Regions from separate parts of the Homo sapiens genome. Here regions 2 and 3 are each linked to region 1. The links come from fine-mapping of genetic effects on gene expression. A gene starts in region 1. Each other region holds a variant in brackets. All regions are shown on one strand. Distances are between the middles of the regions. Region 1 holds the start of HACD4 (3-hydroxyacyl-CoA dehydratase 4). Region 2 overlaps HACD4 (3-hydroxyacyl-CoA dehydratase 4). Region 3 has its middle 5.0 kb from the start of IFNB1.

What was found. PIP is the estimated chance that this variant, and not a neighbour inherited with it, causes the effect. A credible set is the group of variants that fine-mapping cannot tell apart.
Region 2: its variant is the best candidate, but not a certain one, in a credible set for the expression of HACD4 in CD4 T cells (BLUEPRINT, PIP 0.73).
Region 3: its variant is the best candidate, but not a certain one, in a credible set for the expression of HACD4 in whole blood (INTERVAL, PIP 0.88).

Annotation. Positions count from the first base shown.
Region 1 is chr9:21,028,019-21,036,206 of GRCh38, forward strand. HACD4 (3-hydroxyacyl-CoA dehydratase 4) reads right to left here and starts at 3,622. Exons shown (of 7, transcript NM_001010915.5): 1 at 3,535-3,622; 2 at 1,277-1,380. The coding sequence starts at 3,572. It overlaps LOC105375989 (a long non-coding RNA gene), which reads left to right and starts at 3,624. Exons shown (of 3, transcript XR_007061435.1): 1 at 3,624-3,982; 2 at 4,454-4,633; 3 at 5,345-5,901. RefSeq lists a silencer at 3,398-3,757 and an enhancer at 3,401-3,961.
Region 2 is chr9:21,003,928-21,012,110 of GRCh38, forward strand. It overlaps HACD4 (3-hydroxyacyl-CoA dehydratase 4), which reads right to left. Exons shown (of 7, transcript NM_001010915.5): 5 at 7,662-7,768; 6 at 4,094-4,219; 7 at 1-3,192. The coding sequence ends at 3,110. Among named protein-coding and RNA genes, the nearest start is that of HACD4, 24 kb to the right of the region's middle. The variant T/C (reference allele first, on the strand shown) is at 4,451.
Region 3 is chr9:21,068,865-21,077,052 of GRCh38, forward strand. No RefSeq gene overlaps it. Among named protein-coding and RNA genes, the nearest start is that of IFNB1, 5.0 kb to the right of the region's middle. The variant T/C (reference allele first, on the strand shown) is at 4,631.

The DNA of each region.
Region 1 (8,188 bases):
CAGCTACTCAGGGAACTGAGGCAGGAGAATCACTTGAACCTGGGAGACAGAGGTTGCAGTGAGGTGACATCGTACCATTGCACTCCAGCCTGGGCGACAAGAGGGAAACTCCATCTCAAAAAAAAAAAAAAAAGAAAAAAGAAAAGAAAAAAAAAGAAAGAAAAGAAAAAGAAATACTTGATGACTAAGGCAACTTTTCTCACTGGAAAGGTGAGACAGCATAAGCCAGTCCATGGCTTGTGTTGCCAATGACATGTAATATGCCTGCACTGCCTCAGCAAACCTCAAAGGGCTAGAAGTGATGGCTTTTTAATAAAAATATAAAAGAAGTTTTCCCATCACCTGTGTTTTCCTGTGCTTGAAAACTCTCAACATTTGTAGTTGAAACTCAAGCTTTAGGTTATATCTTTGGAGGTCCTTAACAAAGGCGAGACTATATCTGTAGATTTTCAGTAAGAAAAAGCAACATAAAATAGCTTATGGGACCCTGCAAGTAGAATAACTTCCTTATGATACACACGTCTGAAATGATGAGCACAGCATGACTTTTCCCAGCTACATTCTAAACATTTGTTTTTAGCTGAAGCCAGCAGTTGCTTAGATTGTCAAGTCACTCAACAGTTGTAAACTGTGAGGACACTTACCCACGTGCGGATGGAACATGAAGAGAATGTTATTTTGATAGTCATTTAGTCACCCAACAGTGACTTTACTTTTCAGGAAACTAGAGGAAGTTTATGACTTAAACCATTAATGCTGACTCCTATATAAGTGGTTAGCCCTCTACAAAGTGTGTCATTTACATATTACTTCTTAAAGGGACCAAATAGAGGCTTGGGGAATATAAAATTTGTATTTCACTTACTAGTAGTCTCCAGTTACCTCAAACCTGGGGAATAATACAAACACTGGAAGAATTTGATTCATTCCTGATTTCTCTGCATAAAATGTTATGCTGAGATTTCCTCAAAACACTAGAAATCTGCTAAGGTTTGGTACAGAATGGAAAAGGAACAATGAAATGATACCACCTCAGTGCCATCCATCTCTTTTTTGAGGCAAACTGCCAACTCAGGGGGAAGCCAAATCCCTTTCCCTTACTTATCCCACCTTCCCCCTTCCCCAAGAAGGTTTTGCAATAAACATGGTTGCTAAAAAATACAAATTTTAGAGAAGGATATTAGAAGGTTGAGGTGTGTAGAAATTTAATATAAGCAGGATGAGGTGAAAACAAGGATTAAAAGTTAAAAATAAAAAAACTGTTTCGGAGTTTTACCTTTTCCAAATGAAAAGAATCTGACTGTCATATTTGTAAATATCCAAGAGTGGCCACAGAACTGGATTAAGTAATAGATGAAAAGATACGCATTCTTCCTATACCTATAAATACAGGAAAATACCATTAAACACTTCTTTTATAATCATCCTTTCATCACTGTACACATGCCCTTTAATGTACTGGCCAACCTGAGAAAGCAAAAGAAAACTGTTTCATATCAGTCTTTTATCTGGTTACCCCCAAGTACATATCAGATTTTGAAGGGAGCCATAACCTACACTACCCGCTAAAGTAAATACAGATGCTTCTTCACTTATGATGAAGTTACGTCCTGGTACACCCCATCAGCTGAAAATATCATAAACTGAAAATATCATAAGTTGAAAATGCATGTAATACAACTGATCTACAGAACATCACAGCTTAGCCTAGTCTACCTTAAACTTGCTCAGAACACCTACATTAGCTTACAGTTGGGTGGAATCATCTGGCAACACAGTGCACTGTGGAGTACCGGTTGTTTACCTTCCTGATCATGCGGCCGACTGGGAGCTGCGGCCTGATGCCGCGGCCCAGCATCATGAAAGGATATCATACCTGCACATCGCTAGCCTGGGGAAAGATTAAAATCCAAAATTTGAAGTACGGTTTCTAATGAATACATATCATTTTCACACCATCACAAAGTTTAAAAAATTGTGAGTCATGGACCATCTGTATAGTGAGTTTGCTTAAAACCAAATATAGTGCTTTTTCAAAATCTGCTTTCATCTTTGATAAAGTTCTAACCTTGCTGCTCACCAAGGAATAAAAGAAACCACTGCGAAGGTGGCTTTGAATATTCTTTAAAAAAACAAAACAGGCTGGGCGCGGTGGCTCAGGCATGTAATCCCAGCACTTTGGGAGGCCAAGGCGGGTTGGATCACTTGAGGCCAGAAGTTCAAGACCAGCCTGGCCAACATGGCAACTTACAAAAAAAAAAAAAAAAAAGCCGGATGTGGTAACGTATGCCTGTAATCCCAGCTACCTAGCTGCTCAGGAGGCTGAGGCAGGACAATCACTTGAACCTGGGAGGTAGAGGCTGCAGTGAACCGAGACAGCGCCACTGCACTCCAGCCTGGGCGACAGATCAAAACTCTGTTCTCAAAAATAAATAAAAAATAAAAAACAAAACAACAACAACAACAAAAAATCCATGTGTGCAGAGTGGTTGACATGTCACTATGTGTTCCAGTAGCTCAGCTTGCTAAGTGCAGAACTTGAGACACAGTGTTTTAGTTCTGAAGGGGGGTAGGGATGGGAGTAATCCAAATGTTGGGTAATTCAGTAATTGGACACACCTGACTTTTGAACACATTATGTGATTGAGGTTAGTATTAACATCTTGCCACTGCCTATTAACATTTTGCAAGGGTAGATAGTTTCCTTCATCAGATACATATCGAAAGCAGTTTAGTTGCTCATACCAGAAGAGGGAAGTCAAGCTGGGTTTAACAATGTGTTGTGAGTTGCTGGGGAGATGACTAAGAGAAGATTGACAGATAGATGGTTTGAGGGAGTTAGGAAAAGCACTGTTTGAAATGTTCCCTGGGAGTTCAGAAGAGTGACGGGAGTGGCCCTGCCAGTGTGGTCAAGATTTACTCCTCCTTGAAGATGTGAAACCTCCTAGAAACAAGGAAAATAAGCTGGGAGGCAGAATGATTTTTATTTGGGGACATCCTCCCCTATAAAGGCAGGAACTGCTAAAGGGTTTGGGAAGAGGAAATCCTCCTTCAGCTTGTATCAGAATTACCTGGCTTGTGGGTTAAACATATACACCCCCAGGCCCTACCGCTATATGACTGAATCTGTTCCCCGCCGGAACTAGGCCCTGAAATCTATACGTGTGATAGGTGTTTCCACGGCTGTTACATCTAAAAATCACCCCGCAACTCTGCGTCTGAGAAAGTCAAGAGAAGGCTCCTGGGGGGAGGGAAGTACTGGCAGAGGGCTCACAAGGGCAGGGGTAGCCATGCAGCCTGTCCTTCCCATTCAACTGTAAAATGGAGAAAATAACAGAGCCTGCTTCCTAGGGTGGTCAAGAGGGGTAAGTTAGCAAATACCTGCATGAGCTCCAAGGGGTGCCTGGGCACGGTAGCGCTGCGCCTTGCTGGCGGGCGGGGGGTGCCGCCCGCCCGCCCGCCGCAGAGGGGAGCTCCCGCCTCCAGGCCCTCCACCCGCGCCCCCTCCCCTCGGGATTCGGCCGAGCGCCCTACCTGGGCTGCAGCCAGGCGGGCAGCGCCAAGGGCCCCATGGGCCGCCGCCGCCAGGGCTTCCAGCGCGGTCCAGGAAGGAGTACCGGGGAGGAGGCAGGGGCGGCCCCGCGGCTGGGCGCGGAAGGGCGGGGCCTCTCCACACTCAGCAGTTTACAAAAAGAAAAAGCCCGAGGTCGTGCGTTGGGGAAGAGATGAAAACGAAGTTCTCGAAGTTTCTGCAGCACTGCTAGAGCGCGTCAGGGCGCAAGGCTGGGAGGCGGCTCGCGTTCCCGGTGGGGTTACCAAACTCTGGTTACAGCTTCCTAATCTTTGTGTTGAGACCCCCTTGCAAGCCTTCTGGAAATTAATGCATCTGGGCGATTTCCGGGGCCTCCGAACTCGCTGAAGCCCATCCCCAAACCTCCCGAGATGAGTGGATTCCAGGGTGGGCTCTGCTCAATGCCCACCGGTGAGCCAGGTTCAGACACGAAGCTTGTGCCGGGCGCAGTGGCTAATGCCTATAATCCCAGCACTTTGGGAGGCCGAGGCGGGAGGATCTTTTGAGCCCAGGAGTTCGAGACCAGCCTGGGCAACATAGCGAAAACGCGTCTCTACTAAATGTACAAAAATTAGTCGGGCATGGTGACGCGGGCCTGTGGTCCCAGCTACTCCAGAGGCTGAGGTGGGAGGATCGCTTGAGCCTGGGAGGTCGAGGCTGCAATGAGCCAAGATCACGCGGCTACACTCCAGCCTGGGTAACAGAGCGAGATCCTGTCTCAAAAAATAAATAAAAATAAAACGAAGTTTGTAGCACACCTCCCCAACACTTTTTCAGCTAGGGGCCTGATTCCTCTTCTATCAGGCCTCCCTGCTCTCTAATCTCCCTTGGGTTCTCACTGGTGCCTGCAAATCTTTATTCACGTTGTGTTAATTTCTCTAGCCTATGCCCAGCACTGCTACAACCCCTTCGTGATCTCTCAGGCTTATGACATCACTGTCTCCGTACACAGATGACCCACCCTCCTGCTTTGCTAATAAGATCCAGCCCATCTTCAAGCTCCTCTGCCCAGAAAGGGAAACGTTAAAACAAAAACAGAAACATCTAAGAAGGCACTTGCAAGTAAGTGGGACAATGGCACCTGGTTTTGGAGTTGGAAGTTAGCGCCCCCATTTTTACCAAAAGGGAAGTTGAGGCATTAAAAAAATGTTAAGTCACTTGGCACAGGTCACACAATTGATAAAATGGCAGTATCAGAACTTCAAGGTTGGTGGGATTTCTTGTTTGTTTCCCATTAGGCCGTGGCTTCCTTTTTTCATAGTCCATTCCATTCACTATGCCTACCTCTCACCTCTACATTTCTCTGCACCTTCTCTCATACCCTGCCCTCAGTCGGAGGTTAACCCCAACTTTGTGTTTACCAGTCCCTTCTCAGACTCACTGCATCAGTAGTTAACCATCGCCTCTTCTTGCATCGTCATCCCCTCCTTTCCATTGGCTTTCACTGCACTTTAGGGACATAGACAACTCTCTCTTAGCATATAATTAAACATTGTATTCTTTCTGTTTCTCTCTCAATGGAATCTTCTAATAACTCCCTGCCTGCCTTCTCTGATCAGGTGCTTCTTTCATTTCCTACCATCTTCCTGTTCCATAATACCTTACAGTTTGACTCTCCTGACACTGCTCCGTCCGCGAGCATGTTAATTTTTCGCCGAATCCCTATCCTGTATCACCTTGCAGGATGATGCCCCACGGTCCTTGCTTTTACAGAACATTTGATCTAAAGGGTAAACTGGTGGCTAACCCATTATCAATGCTATCTCTGATCAGGTTAAGCAGCAAGAGAGAAAGTAAAGTCCCAGATGGCCTGCAGTGGGGCAGGAGGGAGAAGGTGGAAAGCCTGCCCAGAAGAATTGATCCTTTGTCACCAAACACAGCCCCTGCATCCACATCCTCATTGACAGGTCTGCTGCATTTTACCAGTTCTGTCTGTCTGCCATTTACCCCTGAAGTTCTACATATTCTACGTCTCTTGCCTTATGTCCCTTCTGTCTCTCTGGATGGGTCTTCTTCTCCTGCTGTATTTCCTCAAAAGTCTGCCCTTAGTCACCATCCATTTGTCACCATGTTATCCCTCAGCATAGACAACCACACATGGCTTTATCTCCATGTGGACAACTTTTGACTATTATTTTCAGCCCTTTCTTCTTTTATGAATACTATCTCTGGCCTTTGAGCAGCTTTTGGATATTTCCTCATGAAAGTCCTATTGTTTGGACTATCTTTGGAACGTCTTCCAATTCAACCTATTTAAAATAAGCATACTATCTCTCTTCCTAAATCATTATTTCCCACAGAAAGACCACCATTTTTCTAGCCACTTGATTTTAAATTGGGGAGTCATCATTAAGCACCCCATCCAATCAAATTCGATTGATCCCATCCTTTCCAGATCTCCTACTAATCAGTAGTGTTCTTTGTCCATTCCTTATTTTCCAGTACCTGGGTGAGGAGTAATTGGCCTCCCTCACATCCATTCTTTACATCATAACTCAGTTGACTTTCTGGAGCGTCTTGGGTTATATCTTTCTGCTGCACAAAAAGAGGCCCTTTTTAGTTGCCAAAAAAGAACAAGCCAATCAGTCGAAAAATAAAAAATCCTTTCAAATCAAGCAGTTAGCTGATTCTACGTTATTTCCCAAGGAAAGAGTACAAAAAGAGCTTAGGAGAGAACATTTTGTATGAAAAGTGAAATTCTCCCTTTCCCCTGGTCAGTTCCCAGTCCTGCCCACGTCCTGCCAGCATTATCAAGATGGCCTCCCCCAGCCTCCCTGCCTCCAATCTCTTTCCTCCTTCTACCCAGACTGCCATAGATTATTTAAGGATGGCAAAAATATTTCTTAAAACACAGTTCTGATGTAGCCATTCTCCTGGTCTAAATCTTTTGCTGACTCCCCGTTGCCTGCTACAGTATATCTCTTCTTGCCCCTAAACCTGTCACATGCTGACATCTCCTACCATCCTATCCCCTTACCAAAAATCACAGCAACCTGCTGTTCCATGACCACACCAGGCATTCTCTGGCCAATGTGCCTCTGTGAAAAATTTCCCGTCTACTTTTTCTATTCTACCTCCTCCCCTTATCACAGCCCAGTACTTACCTGTCAAAATTCTATTCATTCTTTAAAAGCCTTCCCAAAGATCCCCTCTGGGAGTCACATAGGCTAACGTATGTCTATGTTGGTATTTATCTTAGGGTATTGTTGTTGTCAAGGTACTTGACTATTTAACTAGATTATAGATTCTCAGAGGCTTCTCTCTCACTAACAGTGAGAATTTGACAACTTTTAACCTTTAAAAATGAAGTTTCTTTTGCCAAAAGCACACAGTTATTAGAAAGATCAAATAATAAAATTTATAGATGAAAATGGATAAAAGCCCCTAGTACAGTGCTTGGCATAGTAAGTATCCATAAATATGTTGGATGAATGAATTAAATCTAGTATGAGTTTTCTATTCCCAAAATTTTAACCCAAAACAAAACATTCAGTGATAGTTACATTACTGAAGTATGTATATTCAACTTTCAGTTATCCACTGGTACAGAAGAAGTCAGAGTCCAAGATAACAACTGAATTAATATATTCTAATCTTTAGAAGAAATTTTAAAATTATTCGAACATGTCAATTTTGTTTTCCTTGGGCAAATGCTTCAATTTGTTTTCATCCCAAAGAGCACCATCTGGGAGGCTAAAACCTTGAAATATATTTCATGGCAGTAACAGACTGGCTACAAAATAAATTCTTTTTTATTTTCAGCACCTTGAGTTTTCAGAGGTCACTCCTCTCCCTCAAAGAAAACACAGAATAAAACTCTTTGTGACCTTGGGTTAGGTAGAGATTTCTTAGGTATTTCATCTAAGAAGCCCTCTTAGATAGCTAAGCAAGCATTTCTTAGCTACTTCTGGCCTTCAAAAGACACTTTCAAGTGAGTGAAAAGAAGCTATATAGTAGAAGAAAATATTTAAAAATCGCATAACTAATAAAGAACTTGTTTGCAAATATATACAGAACTCTCAAAACTCAATAATTGGAAGACAATAAACCCCCCCAAAATAGGCAAAAGATTTGAAAACACACATAACCAAGTAAGAGACAAAGAAAGAACATAAAAGTATGGTCAAAATAATTAGTAATTATGGAAATGAAAATAAAACCACAATGAGATATCGCTACACACTGATAAAGATGGCTAAGATGAAAAAGAGTTAACCACCACAAGTGTTAGTGAAGATGTGCCACAATGGGGATTCTCATAAGCAGCTTTATTTTTAATAGCCAAAAACTGAAAACAACCCAAATTTCCATAAACAGATGAATGGATAAATAAATTATGGCATAACTGTACAATGAAATCCAACTCAGCAGTAAAAAGAAGTGAACTACTGATACAAGCAATAACATGGATGAAATTCAAAATAATCAAACTGAATGTCAGAAGCCAGAAAAAAAAAGAATAGATACTGTATGATTCTACTTATTTAAGGCTCTAGAAAGTGGAAACTAATCATCACTGATAGAAGGAAAATAAGTGGCTGTCTGAGGATAGATAGTGAAGAGGAATGAAAAAAGGGAGGGATTGCAAAGGAGCATGAGAGGTGGAAATGTTAATTG
Region 2 (8,183 bases), 24 kb before region 1:
GTGTGTCATTATTTTTAAAATTAAAAAGAATACAGAATGGGGCATCATTTGTGTATTTGCTAAAGGTTTACTATTTTCATTAGGGTCTTCTCTTTTGAGATAGAGTCTCACTCTGTCACCCAGGCTGGAGTGCAGTGGCTCAATCTCTGCTCACTGCAACCTCCATCTCCTGGGCTCAAGCGATTCTCATGCCCCCAGCCTCCCGTGTAGCTGGGATTACAGGCATGCGCCACCATGCCTGGCTAATTTTTGTATTTTTAGTAGAAATGGGGTTTCACCATGTTGGCCAGGCTGGTCTTGAACTCCTGACCTCAACTGATCTGCCCACCTCAGCCTCTCATAGTGCTAGGATTACAGGTATGAGCCAGCATGCCTGGCCAGGGTCTTCTTTTAAGGCATCAAAGCCCAAATAACTTACAAGATGTTAACAAATACATGACATTAATGAATACTCTATCAGAGCACTAGGGACTGAATGCTGGTGTCCCCCATTAAATTCACATGTTGAAAATCTAATCTCCAGTGTGATGGCATTTGAAGCTGGAACCTTCATAAATGGGATTAGTACCTTTACAATAAGAAATAAGGGAGAGATGGTTTCTCCCTCCACCATGTGAACATATAGCAAGAAGGCATTCATCTGCAAACCATGAAGAAGAATCAGCTAGCACCTTGGAACCTCATCAGGAACTTAATTGTCTAGCACCTTTATCTTGGACTTCCCTGCCTCCAGAACTGTGAGAAATATATTTGTTGTCTAAGCCACCCAGTTTATGGTATTTTGTTATAGCAGCCAAGCTAAGACAGCAATTAGTACCAAGAAGTGTGGTGATGCTATAACCAATATATAAAGATGTGGAAGCAGCTTTGACGTTAGGTAACAGATAGAAGCTGGAAGAGTTTTGAGGTACTAGAGTACCTGGAAGAGTACTGGAAGAGTTTTGAGGTACTAGTTTTTTTGCTAGAAAAAGCCAGTATTGCCATGAAGGGATTGATAGAGGTGATTTTGGTGAGGGCTCAAAGAGAAGAGGGTGGGAGAGAAAGCCTCCATCTTCATAGAGAACACGTAAATCACCATGAAGATAATGTTGGTAGACATGGACAATAAAGGCCATTCTGATGAAGTCTCAAATGAAAATGAGGAACCTGTTATGGGAAACTGGAAGAAAGGTGATCTTTGTTATAATATGCCAAAGAACTTGGATGATTGTGTTCATGTTCTAGTGTTTTGTGGAAAGTAAAATTGTGAGCCATGAAATTAGATATTGAACTGAAGAGATCTCCAACCAGTGTTGAAGGAGTGCCTCGGTTTATCTTGACTGCTTAAAGTAAAATGTGACAAAAAATGAAGACAGAATTCTTAACAAAAACGGAACCAGAACTTAAAAGATGTGGGAAATTATCAGTCTGTCTGCATTACAAAAAGATAAGAAAACACGTTTGGTAGAGAACACTAAGAGTGTAGCAGACAAGTCATCCAATTAGATTTATGTGGGTGTGAACCACAGACCTAATCAGCCACCCCAGCAGGAACACTGCTAGTTTGTATTGAAAGGAATGGAGATGGGACAGAATGAGGGAAGACTGTTGGACTTCTTGAATTTGGGACCATAGAGCTATTCAGCTGTGAATGTACACTATTCTTCAAGAAAAGGAGAAACTGACCCGGAACAATGATTCAGAGAACATCAGTGGTACCTTCTCAGTTTCAAAAGGGGCAGTCATTGCCTTGGTTTCAACAGGCCTGACAGCTTCCGCCTGGTGATATGGGGGTCATCCTCCTCCAACATAGTCCTGGGGGCAATACCTCTGCCTCACTGGGTCCTGAAGCCAGAGTATCAGGCCAAAGAGGATTATTACTAAGACTGAAGATCTCATGGTGTTTGCCTTGCTAGGTTTTGGACTTGCTGGGGACCCATTACACCTTCCTTTTTTCCTGTTTCTTGCTTTGGGAATAGGAATGTCCACCCTTTGTGTGTCCCACCATTGTACTGTGGAAGCACATAACTTGTTTCATTTCACAAGTTCAAAGCTGGAAAGGAATTTTACCTCAGGATGAATTCTACCTTGAATCTCACCCACATCTGATTTAGACGAGACTTTGGACTTTAGAGTTGATGCAGGAATGAGTTAAGACTTTTGAGGCTGTCGAGATGGAATGTATGTATTTTGCATGTGAGGAGGACATGAATTTTGTAGGACCAGGTACAGAATGCTATGGAGTGAATCTTTGTGTTCCCCCAAAATTCATGTGTTAAGCCCTAACCTCCAATATGATGGTATTTGGAGGTGGGGCCATTGGGAGGTAATTAGATCATGAGGGTAGAGCCCTCATGAATGGGGTTAGTGCCATTATAAGAGACATAAGAGAGTTGATCTCTCTCTCATGTGAGGACAAAGAAGGACATCTATCTGCAAACTGGGAAGAGGGCCCTCACCAGAAACTGCATTAGCTGATGCCTTGATCCTGAGCGGAATTCCCAGCCTCCAGAACTGTGAGAAGCGTTTGCTGTTGTTTAAGCCATTCGGTTTATGGTGTTCTATTATAGCAACCTGAGCTAAGACATAGGGCTTGGAAAGATATTTAATTTTCTAAACATATCTAATGTTTAGGGTGAGTATTATTAGATCTGAAGACAGACATCTGTCTATGAAATATGTTATTCTAGGCAACTGTGGAATATATTTTCCATCCCTCTTCTCCTACAGATCTATTTGGGAACTTGGAAGTGAAAAAGAATACATGTAATTTAGGTTATCAAGTTTGGTTTCTTAATTTAATTGAATCTATTGCAGCTAATCTCCTATTTCTCATTAAACTTACAGGAAAATAATCAGACTTCATACAATGTAAGTATAACTTGTATAAAATCCAAATGAAGCAGGAATTTTGGTGAAGCAGGGTATGGAGAATATATATGTCTTAAAAATACAATGTGTGAAAAACATAGCCTGTTATGTCTAGAGTTTTGGGGGTATGTGCAGTTATTTCATGTAATGGATTTTTATCAAATACAAGGTATTTTTCCACCAGAATACTTCCTGTGTTTTATTTACTGCACTGAATCCACAGCCTGTCTTTTCTCGTGTCACACTGGAATGCTGTACTTCACATCTTCTTTTTTTTAATGGGAAAGATTCCGAGGATGTCTCTTCTTTCTGAGTATAGATGACTGTAGGTAAAATACATACCTAATATGGAGAAAGAAGTTGCAAAAGTAAGTAAGGTTAACTATTTCTCTGGAAGAAACAATGCTTTTAAAATACAGTCAGAGTGCTGCCCAAATCCAGGGAGAAGACACTTGCAAGGGAGATGTGAGAAGGAATGTTTAAAGAAGTGTCCAGATTTTATGCAGAAAGAGAGGTAAATCAAACTCTTCCATCCTACTTTTTTTAATGCAAGGAATTGTCTTCCTTTCTTTAGCATAGCTCTCTCCACCTTCCTCTAAAGTTTCACATTTTTGTCTTTTCTCTCTATATGTTGTTCATATGTTTGATATCTGTTACCTTCTAGAGATAATCATTATTTTGGAGATTTGTGAAGGTTAGAGCTGGGAAAACAAAAATTTAATAGTGAAAGTTTTTTCCCCAATTTCCTGGAAAATGATTAGGTTTAATGATCAAATTTATTCAAGGGTAAGTTTTTGTTCCATACATTTCTCTTGAGTCTGTAACACCGACTCCCATTTGCCTGATAGGAAGTGCCAGCTTGAAAAGCCAAACAAACAAGAAACAAAATGGATATAAATGGAAACATCAGAAATAGCCAATTCTTCTTAGTTTGACATCTAGGTTTTATTTGTAGATACCTGTGCACATGGTCAAAACTTCTATATCTCATACATAATGCAGCTATATTTTCTGATAGTAAAATTGTTCTTATTTGTACAGTGAAAGTGAAATATATGATCCCATGATGCCCTGCAAAAAGCATTATAACCTCCAGGGGCTTTACTAGCAAGATCTAGTTCATGATGTCAGGCTTCCTCTTTGGTCTCTCCCATGTTTACCAACCTGTATATTAAGGTAGACGGCAAGCACTAACCAAAAAGTACAGGAAAAATGCAAAAACAAGACCAAAAAAGCCACTTACCTATAAAGAGCATCATGAGATATATTTTCAGCACATATGGGAAATAGATGGATAAGTCAAAGGGCAGCTTGGTGGAATAAGTGCCAAATGATTCAAAATAAGGCAGCGATTGATAGATGGCAAATGCTGTTAAAAAAGAAAGGCATCATAAAGGTATTCCTCCTTAAGTTGTTACAGGGATGTGTATATATGTCTTCATAGTTGTAGGATATTTTGAATTTGATAATGACAGTTTTGTAATAGTTGCTGAATCTTTTTGCTAAACCTAGTTTAATATAGAAATCTGTGAAATGATTAAGTTGGCAAGGTGCTTACAGCAGTATGACTTGTTGAATGTTTGTCCATGGTATACCTTAT[T/C]GTGCCTACAGAAGAATTTACAATGTTTCTTAAAATGTTATCTCAAAATACATTTGTCCACCTAGCCACAAATAGGGGTGATAGAGAGATGAACTTGGAAAATGGTGCATATATTTTCCTCTTAGAGTTTCACAACACACATTAACATAGTAGAACACATATTAACATTGTGAGAAATTCTGTAATAAAAAAATACCACCTAGCCTTTCCTCAATGTAACTGGCCTTAGAATATCTCCTTCTTCCTTCTTAACCACCAGTAGTATTTAATAAGTATTTTGAAGAACTCTATGAGAAATGCTGGCCTAAATTATTTTGAGGGAGGGGGCTGGTATCAGGTAAAAAAAAGATTAAAGTTCAGTAACATTGTATCCCATGTATAGATATTTTTGGTAACATTTCATGCAATGAAATGTTAATATGCTAACATGATGTAAGATGTTATCATTAGGGTAAGCTGGGTGAAGGGTACATGGGAATGGTGCACTATTTTTGCAATTTCTTATGGGTCAAAATTATCCCTACATAAAAAGTTTTTAAAAAGAGAAAGATGAAGAAAAGGCAAGAGTTCACAACTGTTAGAGCCAAGCAGAGGTATGAGTAGCATCAGTGAAGGATCTGCCACTGACACCAAATATGCAGTTTAAGGTTAACACAGGCCGCACCTATGTCTCTAGCATTTTATCAGTATAATTAGTTGATTTTGTTATTTACATAAGCTTTGTTTTTGTCTTATATCTGTCAGATGGGAAATTATAGTTATTAAAATTATTAAAATTAAAGTTATCGAAAGTTTAGTAGGTTTATTTAACTGCGCAGTTTTATACTTTGGGACATCTAACATATACAGAAACACAGAAAGATAAAATTACAATTATCTGTATTCCACCATCCAGAGCATTATTGACATTTTTGTCATATATATCTCTAGACTATTTTCTGCATATACCTTATTTTGTAATTGCAAGAATAAGTTTATGAAGTTAATAAAAGAATAAGGGTTGTATGGCAACCATATAAGAACATGGCTTTCCTAGAAAAGACAAGGATTAGAATTATGGAATAACAAGAATGCAAAAGTTTCCTATACATTTATCCACCCCTTATTCCTAGGAAGGGATTAGTCATATTTCTACCTTATTCCTTTATATATTCTTTTAAATTTGATTAAGTTTTAATTGGCAAATCATAATTGTATACATATATGAAGCACAATGTGATATTTTGATATATGTGTACAATGTGGAATGATTAAATCAAGCTAATTAACATATCTACCACCTCGCTTACTTTTCGTGGTGAGATTTGAAATGTACTCTTGGCTATTTTGAAATATACATTATTAAGCACAGTCACCCTGCTGTGCACTAGATCTCAAAAATGTATTCCTCCTAACAAACTTTGTACCCTTTGACCAACAGCTCCCAATTTCCTTTCTATATTCTCTACAGTACTATGATTTAACAAAGATAATGTATTTGATATTTCAATGAGAGGTTACTTGATTCTTAAAGAATGGACAATCAGGTTCTTACTGTTTTCAAGACAATTATTCTTTAGATCCACTTGGCATAGTCTATTCCAAAATTAATAATTCTTCCTTTTGAATCAAAACAAATTTAGAAATTCTAACATGATTTACAGTAACAAGCTCTTTTTATCTGCTCATCAGTAGATAGAAAATATGTGTTTTTGTTTTATAACTGGCTTTTATATACTTTGGTTATTGTTAATGTCGTCATCATTTTATGTTAAACACCATGTCCTTATGTTTTTCCCTTAGTTACCTTAACATGCTTTCTTATTTTATGTCTTCAGTTTTGAAAACTTTAATCATGTCTTACAGAATGCTCCTTACCAGTCTACCAAATCCATTGCAGAAGAAAGCATATATTCTCCAAATATCCTCAAGCTCTGCTGACTGATGATCTGAATGATTTGATCTTAAGTTTTAGGTTTATATTTAGGCTATATAATTAGCCTACTCATACTCAATAATTCATTCTGTGTTCATTGAGCATGTATACTGGTGCATAAAAGAGAGGAAGGAAGCAAAGAAACAGACTCAGACATCCTGGTACCCCCCCCCCCCCCAGAGCTTACAGTCTAGTCAAGGAAATGGACATTAATCAAAGAATCATACAAATGTGTAATTATGCTGATATAAGCCCTGTTAAGACAGCAGTCCCCAACCTTTTTGGCACCAGTTACTGGTTTTGTGGAAGACAGTTTTTCCACAGACCAGAGGAAGAAGGATGGTTTCAGGATGGTTCAAGCACACAACATTTATTGTGTACTTTATTTGTATTATTATTACATTGTAAGAACAAAATAATTATACAACTCACCATAATGCAGAATCAGTGGGAGCCCTGAGCTTATTTTCCTGCAACTAGATGGTTTCATCTGGGGGTGATGGGAGACAGTGAAAGATCATCAGGCATTAGATTCTCATAAGGAGCACACAACCTAGATCCCTCACATGCACAGTTCACAACAGGGTTTGTGCTCCAATAAGAATCTGATGCCTCCACTGATCTGACAGGAGGTAGAGCTCAGGCGATAATGTGGGCAATGGTGAGTGGCTATAAATACAGATGAAGCTTCACCTGCTAGCCTACTGCTCACCTCCTGGTATGCGGCCTGGTTCTTAATGGGCCACAGACTGGGATCATGGCCTAGTTTGGGGGCCCCTGCTATAAAAGATTCATGATACTGTACCCAGGGGAACTCAGTTGAGGAAGTCAGGGAATGCCTCCCTCAGAAAATGATGATTAATCTCAAGGTAGAGTTAACTAGTTGCTGAGAGAGGGTAGGATACATAGTAAATGGTAAGTGGGAAAGACTCACCAGAGGGGACTGAATTTCTGTGCATTAAAAGTTAAAAATCATAGAATCTCTAAATGTTAACTTCTTTTTGGTGAATAAGCAGACTCTGAGAGGTTAAATGAGTTACCCAAAACTCACACAGTGAGTTAATGAAGTGAAGGCCTCAGATGCCGTTGCTTTTTGTCCAGTATTTTGTCTACTGTGCAGAGCTGCTTCCCTCTTCAACTTTGCCTCTTTGCATCAAGGGAAATATGCCAGTAAGGATACACTGAGTGAGCTAAGCATTCGCAAAAATAGTAATTTAATCATCAAAAAATTTAGTGAACCATTATAACTAGATGGCTTTTGTCAGTAAGCAATACAGCAAGTCACTCTTTTCTTACCTTCAGCAAGAACACACAAAGGATAAATTGGCATCCATAGTGTTTGACTGAGCCATGTCAAGACAGCATAGGATATTCCTATGACTGATAACATGCTATAAGTGTACCTGAAAGGAGATGAGAAGCTCATAAACATCATTTTCTGCTAATATCTGGGAAATAGGAGAAACTACTGTGTAATTAAATACAGAGATACAACTGGAAAGTGTACAAATTGTATATTTTATTTCCTATAATTTAAGGAAGAGTTTTTTTTAAATGGGGGAAAGGGACCATGTCAATCTGGCTTGTCTCATGTGGTAGATCATTAATAATTATAAAGCTAAACAGAGCAAGTAACTCTTACTCCCTCCTCAGAAAAATACAGTTACAAATTTCCTTGATTAGTGACTTCAATTTCATTAAAAAGCCAAGCTCATTTTTTGCAGCAAGCAGCTAGGTTTTTTAATGACAGACATACTTGTAAATATCTCAGGAATTCATTTAAAAATAAAATGTGACTTCCAAATCTTTATTTGGCAT
Region 3 (8,188 bases), 41 kb after region 1:
AACCCTTCCTTGTCAACTATTACAGAAAGTATTATAATATAACCCAGGGAGGTTGAGCACTTGCGACTTAATAAACACAATTAAACCATAAGAAATAAGAACAAATTTAGATAAACAGAAAGAAAATGAATTTTTCATGCATACCACATTTATTATTTCAGGGGTGTGGCTTATAGTAGGAAAATAATCCATGGAACTCAAAGGTATATTGGAGTTTAGGAGAGATCCCGTTGCAGCCTGGAGGGGAGGAAGCTGTATTGAATATTGCTTTCCTCCCTTGTGTGGCCTACTCTTCCTTAATAGATGCTAAGGTGCCACATATGCCTGATAGACACCAATTGGTCTAAAGCCAGTTCGCCAAATATAAAATATATCATGCTTTAAACTATTTATAAGGCTTATAACAAATATAATGGAAGAAGTTATTTTAATAACCCTTGAATATTTCTATGGCATTTTATTATTTTAATTTATTTTTTAAATTGACAGATAAAAATGGCATGTATTTATTGCATACAACATGGGGTTTTGAACTATACATACATTGTGAAATGGTTAAATCTAGCTAACAAGTGCATTATCTCACATAGTTATTATTTTTTGTGGTGAAAACACTTAACACCCATTCCCTTAGCATTTTTCAAGAATACAATATATTATCATTAACAATCACCATGCTGTACAATAGATCCTTTGAACTTATTCCTCCTATGTAACTGTAATTTTGTATTTTTTGACCAACATCTCCCCAGCCCTCTCCTGCCCATCCCAACTGTCCCAGCTCTGGCAACCATCATTCCATGCTCTGTTTCCATGGGATTAACATTTTTAGATTTTACATGTAAGTGAGATCCCGTGGTATTTACAAGGCCCTGTGTTGGACCAAGTCATACATCCCATTTTTTGCATTTATTTCTCATAGAAATCTTGAAGAGTTTGGGGTATGATTGTTTCTAATTTATTTAACTTGCCCAAGACCATACTGGTACAAAGTGGCAGAACCCACAGTAGCTCTCAGGTTTGTATTATTTCATGCCCTGTGTTTTTGCCATCAGAGTATAGGAAACTTAAAAAAAAAAAAAAAAAAAAAAAAAAAACTTTGTACTTTCAATGCACAGACTTTCAATTCATGCATTTCTAGATTAGTAAATCATTTTCTGCTTTGAAAGTTATTTGTTTTACCTCTGGACTTTCATAAAAAGAAAATGAGCCAAGAAATTAAAAAGTGAAAGGAAAGAGAAATTTGCTGTGTATTTCCATTAAGTAATGTAAGCCATTTTAGTTTTTAAGCATTCCTGTGAGATAACAAAATCAGCTTGTGTCAGACTTGAGAGGGAAACTGCACACAGGGCTGTCTTGCTAGTACATGGATAAAAATGTAGTGCTCAAGAGAAGGAAATGCAGCCTTGCCAAGGGAAAAACGATGACTCATGATTCAGACAGTTGCTTACAAAAACCTTTGGAGAAAATATTCTCCGTAGAGTCTGGCAAAGGAGCAAATGGGAATTTCCTGCTATTCTCTTTAGAAAAAGGAAGAGAGAGAGAGTTCCCTTCTGCATGGGGATGGAAGGAGACCAACTGCTTGAGTGAGGACAGCAGTCCTTTCTGCAAAAGATCCCCACAGGCCACTGGACGTTAGTGCACCCACTTGGAGCAAAACCAGGAGTTGTGCTGTGCATGAGCTGCCGGGCAGTAGAGCTTCTTGTTCCTTCTCTAAATTGCAATATTTGTGCTATGTAGTTGGGTAAAAATAGCATTTTGGGTGGTAGTAGATGATTACAGGTAGTTAAGAGTATAGTCCCTGGTTCCAAATATGTCTCTGTTCTTTACCTACTGTGGATTTGGTCAAGTTACTTAACCTTACTGAGCCTCAGTTTTCTTATGTATAAAAAGGAGAGAACAATACTTACCTCATAGATGTTCTCTGGATGATTAAATAAGATGGTCTGTCTATCTATCTATCTATCTATCTATCTATCTATCTATCTATCTATCCATCCATCCATCCATCTCTCTAACTATCATCTATCGAGCTAGCTAGCTAGCTAGCTAGTTCATCCTCAGCAGATCCCTTGCAGAAAGTAAGTCCTTAAGAAATGTAGCTGTTATTGTTGTGTTTGCATTGTACTATCATTGCAAATATTTCCATTATGAAGACACAAGTTAAAAATAGTTGCCTTGATGATTTCTCATGAAATTAAATATGGAATTACTGCATGATTCAGCAATTTTATATCTGGGTATATAGCCCAAGAAGTAAAAGCTGGGACATGAATAGATATTTGTATACCCATATTCATAGCAGCATTATTCACAATAGCCAAAAAAAGGAAGCACACTAAGTATGCATCAATGGACCAATGAATAAACTAAATGTGGTACACACACACAAACACACACAGCCTTAAAACAGAAAGAAATTCAGAAACATGCAACAACATAGATGAAACCTGAAGACATTATATTATACTAAGAAGAATAAGCCAGTCACGAAAGGACAAAGTTTATATAATTAGTCATATGAGGTACCAAGAGTAGTCAAATTCATAGAGACAGAAAGTAGAATGGTGGTTACCAGGGGCTTGGAGAAGGACAAATGAAGAGTTGGTGTTTAATGGCTTCAGAGTTGCAAATGAAAAAGATGAAAGAGTTCTGGAGATGAATAGTGGTGATGGTTGCACGACAATATGAATGTACTTAATGTTACAGAACTTAAAATGTAACTTAAAAAAGGTTTAAATGCTACATTTTATGTATATTTTGCCACAATATGAAAATGGGAAAAATCATTTCCTTAAGCACTGGAATTTGTAATATGTAACTTGTATTGCACTTGGTGCAGATATGCAATGTGTGAAGTGCTCTTGGCTTTTCCCCCCATAGTTTTAGCACGCAGGGATCGTGATCCACTTCTTGGACTATCATTTAAAATATGGAGTATTGCAAATGTGCCATAAGTAAAAACTTTTAACAATCTAACCTCTAACTGACAATGAACTTAGACTGTAAGATAATTTTTTATTTCTAAGAGCCTGTTGATTTAATCTCATCTTGGAGTCTTATAAAAGAGATCTTAAGACATCAAACAATGTATGTTGAGTTTAACAAGGGAACACAACAAGATGCTTTGGCTCCATTTTATTTATTTTTCAGTAAATTTATACTTTTTTATTTTTCGAGAGGTTTCAGTGAAGTACAATGACATGTAATAAACTGTACATATTTAAAGTGGACACTGTGATAAGTTTTAACATGTATATACACCCCTGAAACCATCAACACAGTCAAGATAGTGAAAATGTCCTTGCGCTCTCAAAAGTTTCTTTGTGTTGCTTTGTAATCTCTCCCTCCATCTCACTCCTCAGTACTACTGCCCCCACCCCCAGGTAACCACTAATCTGCTTTCTGTCATTATAGATTAATTTTCCTTTCTAGAGTTTTATAGAAATAGGCCAATACAAAATTTATTCCTTTTTGGTCTCTTTTCTTTTCTTTTTTTTTTTGAGATGGAGTCTCGCCCTGTCACCCAGGCTGGAGTGCATTGGTACAATCTCCGCTCACTACAACCTCCGCCTCCTGGGTTCAAGTGACTCTCCCGCCTTGGCCTCCCGAATAGCTCGGATTACAGGCAATCGCTATCCTGCCCTCTAATTTTTGTATTTTTACAGAGATGGGGTTTCACCATGTTGTCCAGGCTGGTCTTGAACTCCTGACCTCAGGGGATCTGCCTGCCTCAGCCTTCCAAAGTGCTGGGATTATAGGCATAGCCACTGTGCCTGGCCCTTTTGTATTCAGCATAATTTTTTTGGAGATTCATCCATGTTATTGTGTGTATCAATGATTCATTCCTTTTTATTGTTGAATAATATTCCATTGTATGGATATACTACAATTTCTTTAATCATCCATTTGTGATGGACAAACAAAGCTCCCACAAACATTCATATACAAGTCTGTGTATATGAATGTTTATACACAGAAAAGAATCCTTTCTTTTCTCTTGGATAAGTACTAGGGAGTCGACTGGTTGGATCATGTGGTAGGTATATGATTACCTTTTTTAAAAACTGCAAAAATGGTTTTCCAAAGTCATTGGACCACTTTTTGAAAGTTCTAGTTGCTCCACATCTTTGCCAATCCTTGATATGGTGAGTCCTTTTAACTTCAGCCATTCTAATAAGTATGTAGCAGTGTCTTATTGTTGTTTAATTTGCATTACATTAAAGGTTAACGTTATTGGTCCTTTCCTGTCTTGTTTGCCATCTCTGTACCTTCTTTCCTGAAATATGTGTTGAAATCTTCTGTTTGTCTTTTAGTGGGTTATTTGCTTTCTTATCACTGAATCTTGAGAATTCTTTACATATCAATACAACTTCTTTATCAGAGAGGTGACTTGCAAATATATTCTCTCAGTCTGTGACCTGTCTTTTAATCCTCTTAAGAGAGTCCTTTGAAGTGGGCTCCATTTTTTTAAAAATTCGTAGGCTAATTGTTGGGGGATATAATTTGAATAATGCGTTATAGGTTTTCTAGGAACACCCTCTACATGAATGTCAAAACAGAATAATAACTGAAACATAATTGTCTGATTTGGTGATAACTATGATGTGAACATGTTTTTGGAGTACTC[T/C]CCATCAGGTCAATTAACGAGTTAAATGGTTAAATGGATCCTACTAAATTAGGAGAGTATAATTTTGTGCTGGCACTACTAGTCCAATTTTTGAGTTTGTCTTAAACTATCCTAGTAAATTTTAGGCAATTAAACTAATGTTTAAAAAGCAACAATTAATGTTGAGAACAAAAGGACTCATAAAACAGTTCATTTTTTAGGCTCAGCAAGCACCAGTGCAATGTGTTTAGAGAAAATGTCTGCAGTCAACAAGGTATGGCTCTGGGTGACATTCATCTTCTGACTCTATTACCAGATGCTGGCTCTCTCTGTGTTTCCCACAGCCAAACCCGTCAAGAAGAAATCCATGTTGATGAGGGCCCCCACAGTCTGTGCTTGGCAGACCTCTCATGCATCAGAAATAGAGCTTGGCCAAGAGGGCTGGTGAACTTTGCTCAGAAAGGACAGAAGCTATGGCAGGTCCCCATGATGGAAAGGGCTCCCCTGGGACCAAATCATTTCACATTCATTATCTGACCTACACCACCAACAATCCTTGAGAAAGATTTTACCATGTTAATATACTAATTTGCTATTTGCATGTCTTCTTTGATGAAGCATCTGTTCCAATATATTATCCATTTTTATTATTTTATTTATTATGTATTTTATTGTTTTATTAGTGGTTTTGTTATTATTGAGTTTTCAGAGATTTTAAAAAGTATATTCTGGAGATGAGTCTTCTATCAGATATGTGATTTGCAAATACTTTCTCCCAGTCTGTGGCATGTTCTTTTCATTTTCTTAAGAGTATTTTATGAATAAGTTCCTGATCAGATGTTATCTGAATACTTGAACGTGTTTAATGCCACCTAAAATGCCTAAATAACACCTTTGTTGACTGCAAAAAAGACTATACAAATGTGTGCTGATATTGCCCTGCATCTGCATGTTCATATATTTAAGCAAAATTCATATATTTGTATGTAACCCAGATGTTCACCAGTGCCTTCTTACTGTTCAAGAGCTAGATAAGACAGTTCCATCTCCTAATCCAGCTTTGTGGATTCCTAAGGTGTGATATGGGAAGGGGGAAGGTGGCTGTGTTGTCATTGTTTTGCCTCCTGTTTCTTCTAATTTGGTTCATCTATGAAGATCTGGCCACCCCATGTTTGTTCAAACATGAGACCGGGCACTTTCTATGATTTGTACACAGAGGTTTTACGCAGAGGACTTTTTGTGGTAGCCATTTTTATTGAAGTTTTGGAGATGATGTCGGACAGAGTTTCAATACATCAGCGCACACAATTTCATGCTGCACATGAGCTACGCTGTTTGGAAAATTCTTTTTTCATTCCCACCAGCAAAATTTTCATTGTCTGACTTGTTCCACGTAGTGTCACAGTTCCAGAGCTTTGGGGGATTTCTGTCTGTCTCCTTTCTCCTTAAAAGCTGACACACAAAACATGCTATTGATATTTTACTGTCTTTTCCGTTGCCACACCCATAACCTCAAAATCTCACTAGATATTGAGTGAAGCCTCATTAGATATTTTTCTACAGACTCATTAGATATTTTTCTAAACAAAGAGTGTTTTCCTTAAGACCTTATTCTGGTGCCAGCCAAAGTAATATTATTATTTTACTTTATTCCTCATGCCTAGTCATCGGTTCAGCACATGCAAATGTGCACCTTTGGGCTAGTTGCCTTCATTTTTATTGGAATTAATTTTAATTGTTACTTATCTTCTACTGGTTATGGACTTATTTTTGGCATTCTGGATGGGTTGACATGCTAAGCTGTGATACAGTATTTCTAATTCTGCAGAAGTGGCCTCTCTCCTGTCATTCTTGCCCCAACACGGAGGTAGAGCAGGTCTTTTCAAGAACTTGCCAGTTTCTGGGCCAGTTTAGCAGTTCAGCTCAGAGAAAGCAGTGGACAATAGGGGCCCATTGCTGAGAGAGATTTCTTTAGTTTCCTCTTGGCTGCTCTAGACACTGCCTGGACTCCGCATTGCTACTTGCTGATCTTGTCCTTGACTCCAGGAAAAAGAGGAGTTCGGCTACAGAAGGGCTTTTGGCAGAGCAGGGGTGGAGAGCTGGGGGAAGGATGAAGCTTGAGGGGGGCTTGACTGGTTTGAGTCAATGGCAGCAGGCCCCCCATGATGACATTTCTTGTTTGCATAGCCCGTGTGTGTGTTATCCACTTTGAACTGGAAGGGGGAGCCCTGAGTTCATTGTCTACACAATAGTAGCTTCTCTGGAACTCTTAATGAACAGATTACTTCTCCTGAAAGCTGCTTCTTTTAAAAGGAATTCAGATTTCTTTACTGCTCTAGGAAAAAATGCCTAGATACAAATAAAGACTTTTATGATGCTTCTCTTTGAACTTCTTTTTAAAATCTCCATTCACTAGAGACTGAATGAAATCATTATGTGACCATGGGCAGTTACTAAATTTCTTTGAGATTTAGTTTCCTCTCCTGTAAAATGGCAATAATGTACTTGTGCCTACCTGAGGGGTGCTTGTGGAGAAGATTAAATCCGATTATCTATGTGGGATCTCAGCACAGTGCCTATTTCATTAGAATTTCTCAGTAAACAGCAACTGCTAATGGCAGTAATAGCCACTATAACCCAAGTTCCCGAGTTTTGGTACAAAGACAAAAACCTAACCAGTCAGTCCATGCTGACCAGGTGCCCAAAGAGCTCCTAGAAAAGCTTGATTTTTTTCCCGGTGTAAGCCCTGGGAAAAATTAATGCCCTCTCTATCCCACCTAAACTTCCCTTTCTCCTATGTTTCCTGGCTTTTTGCTTGGTTTGAAACTGGACTTAAACTGCTGCACCTCTTTCATTTGGCTTTAGGAACTATGTGGCGTCCGCAATGCAGAGCAACAGAAAACTGGACAGGACATTCCTGGAATTCTGTATGAACAAGGCAGTGGGGACTGGAAGCAGGCTTAGTTTTTTGAAAAACTAGGGAGAAAACTAACCAGATGGCTAGGGTATAAAAAGGTTCTTCTTCCTCTGATGCCTGTGCCATGCCAGCAGACAGGGACCCACAGCTCCCCTAAGATACCCACACATCTTGGCTGTCCCATGATGAGCAGAATAAAGAGATTGCTGCTTAATAGTGTCATGGAAGTAAATGGGACTTCTCACCCTTAAGCTTGCAGGGATGGTGGGGGGCACATAATTATTTAAAAATCTTTCGAGGAGCAAAGTATCCCCCAAATAACGTGGGAAGGTTAGGGAGAACACAAAAGCTGACATATTCCTCTGGCTATTCCTGATGGCCAGCTCAATTCTAACTTTATGATGAGAGAATCTGGAGCACACAGTAGGAGGAATGGGAACCCCAGGTTTAGTTCCAGACCCTCCAGCTTTCCTTTTCTCTTTTAATCCCACAGCAGTTCATGCCATATTTATTCCCCCATAAGGTTCAGGTCCCCTTATTGTCTCTTACCTTATATATTCCACATGGCTTTCTTGAATTTTAAATTCCTTAAAGGCAGGGGCCAGAAAGTATACTACTTTGCAGGTATATTTTAAAAAGAACAACTAATAGGTACTTGGCAA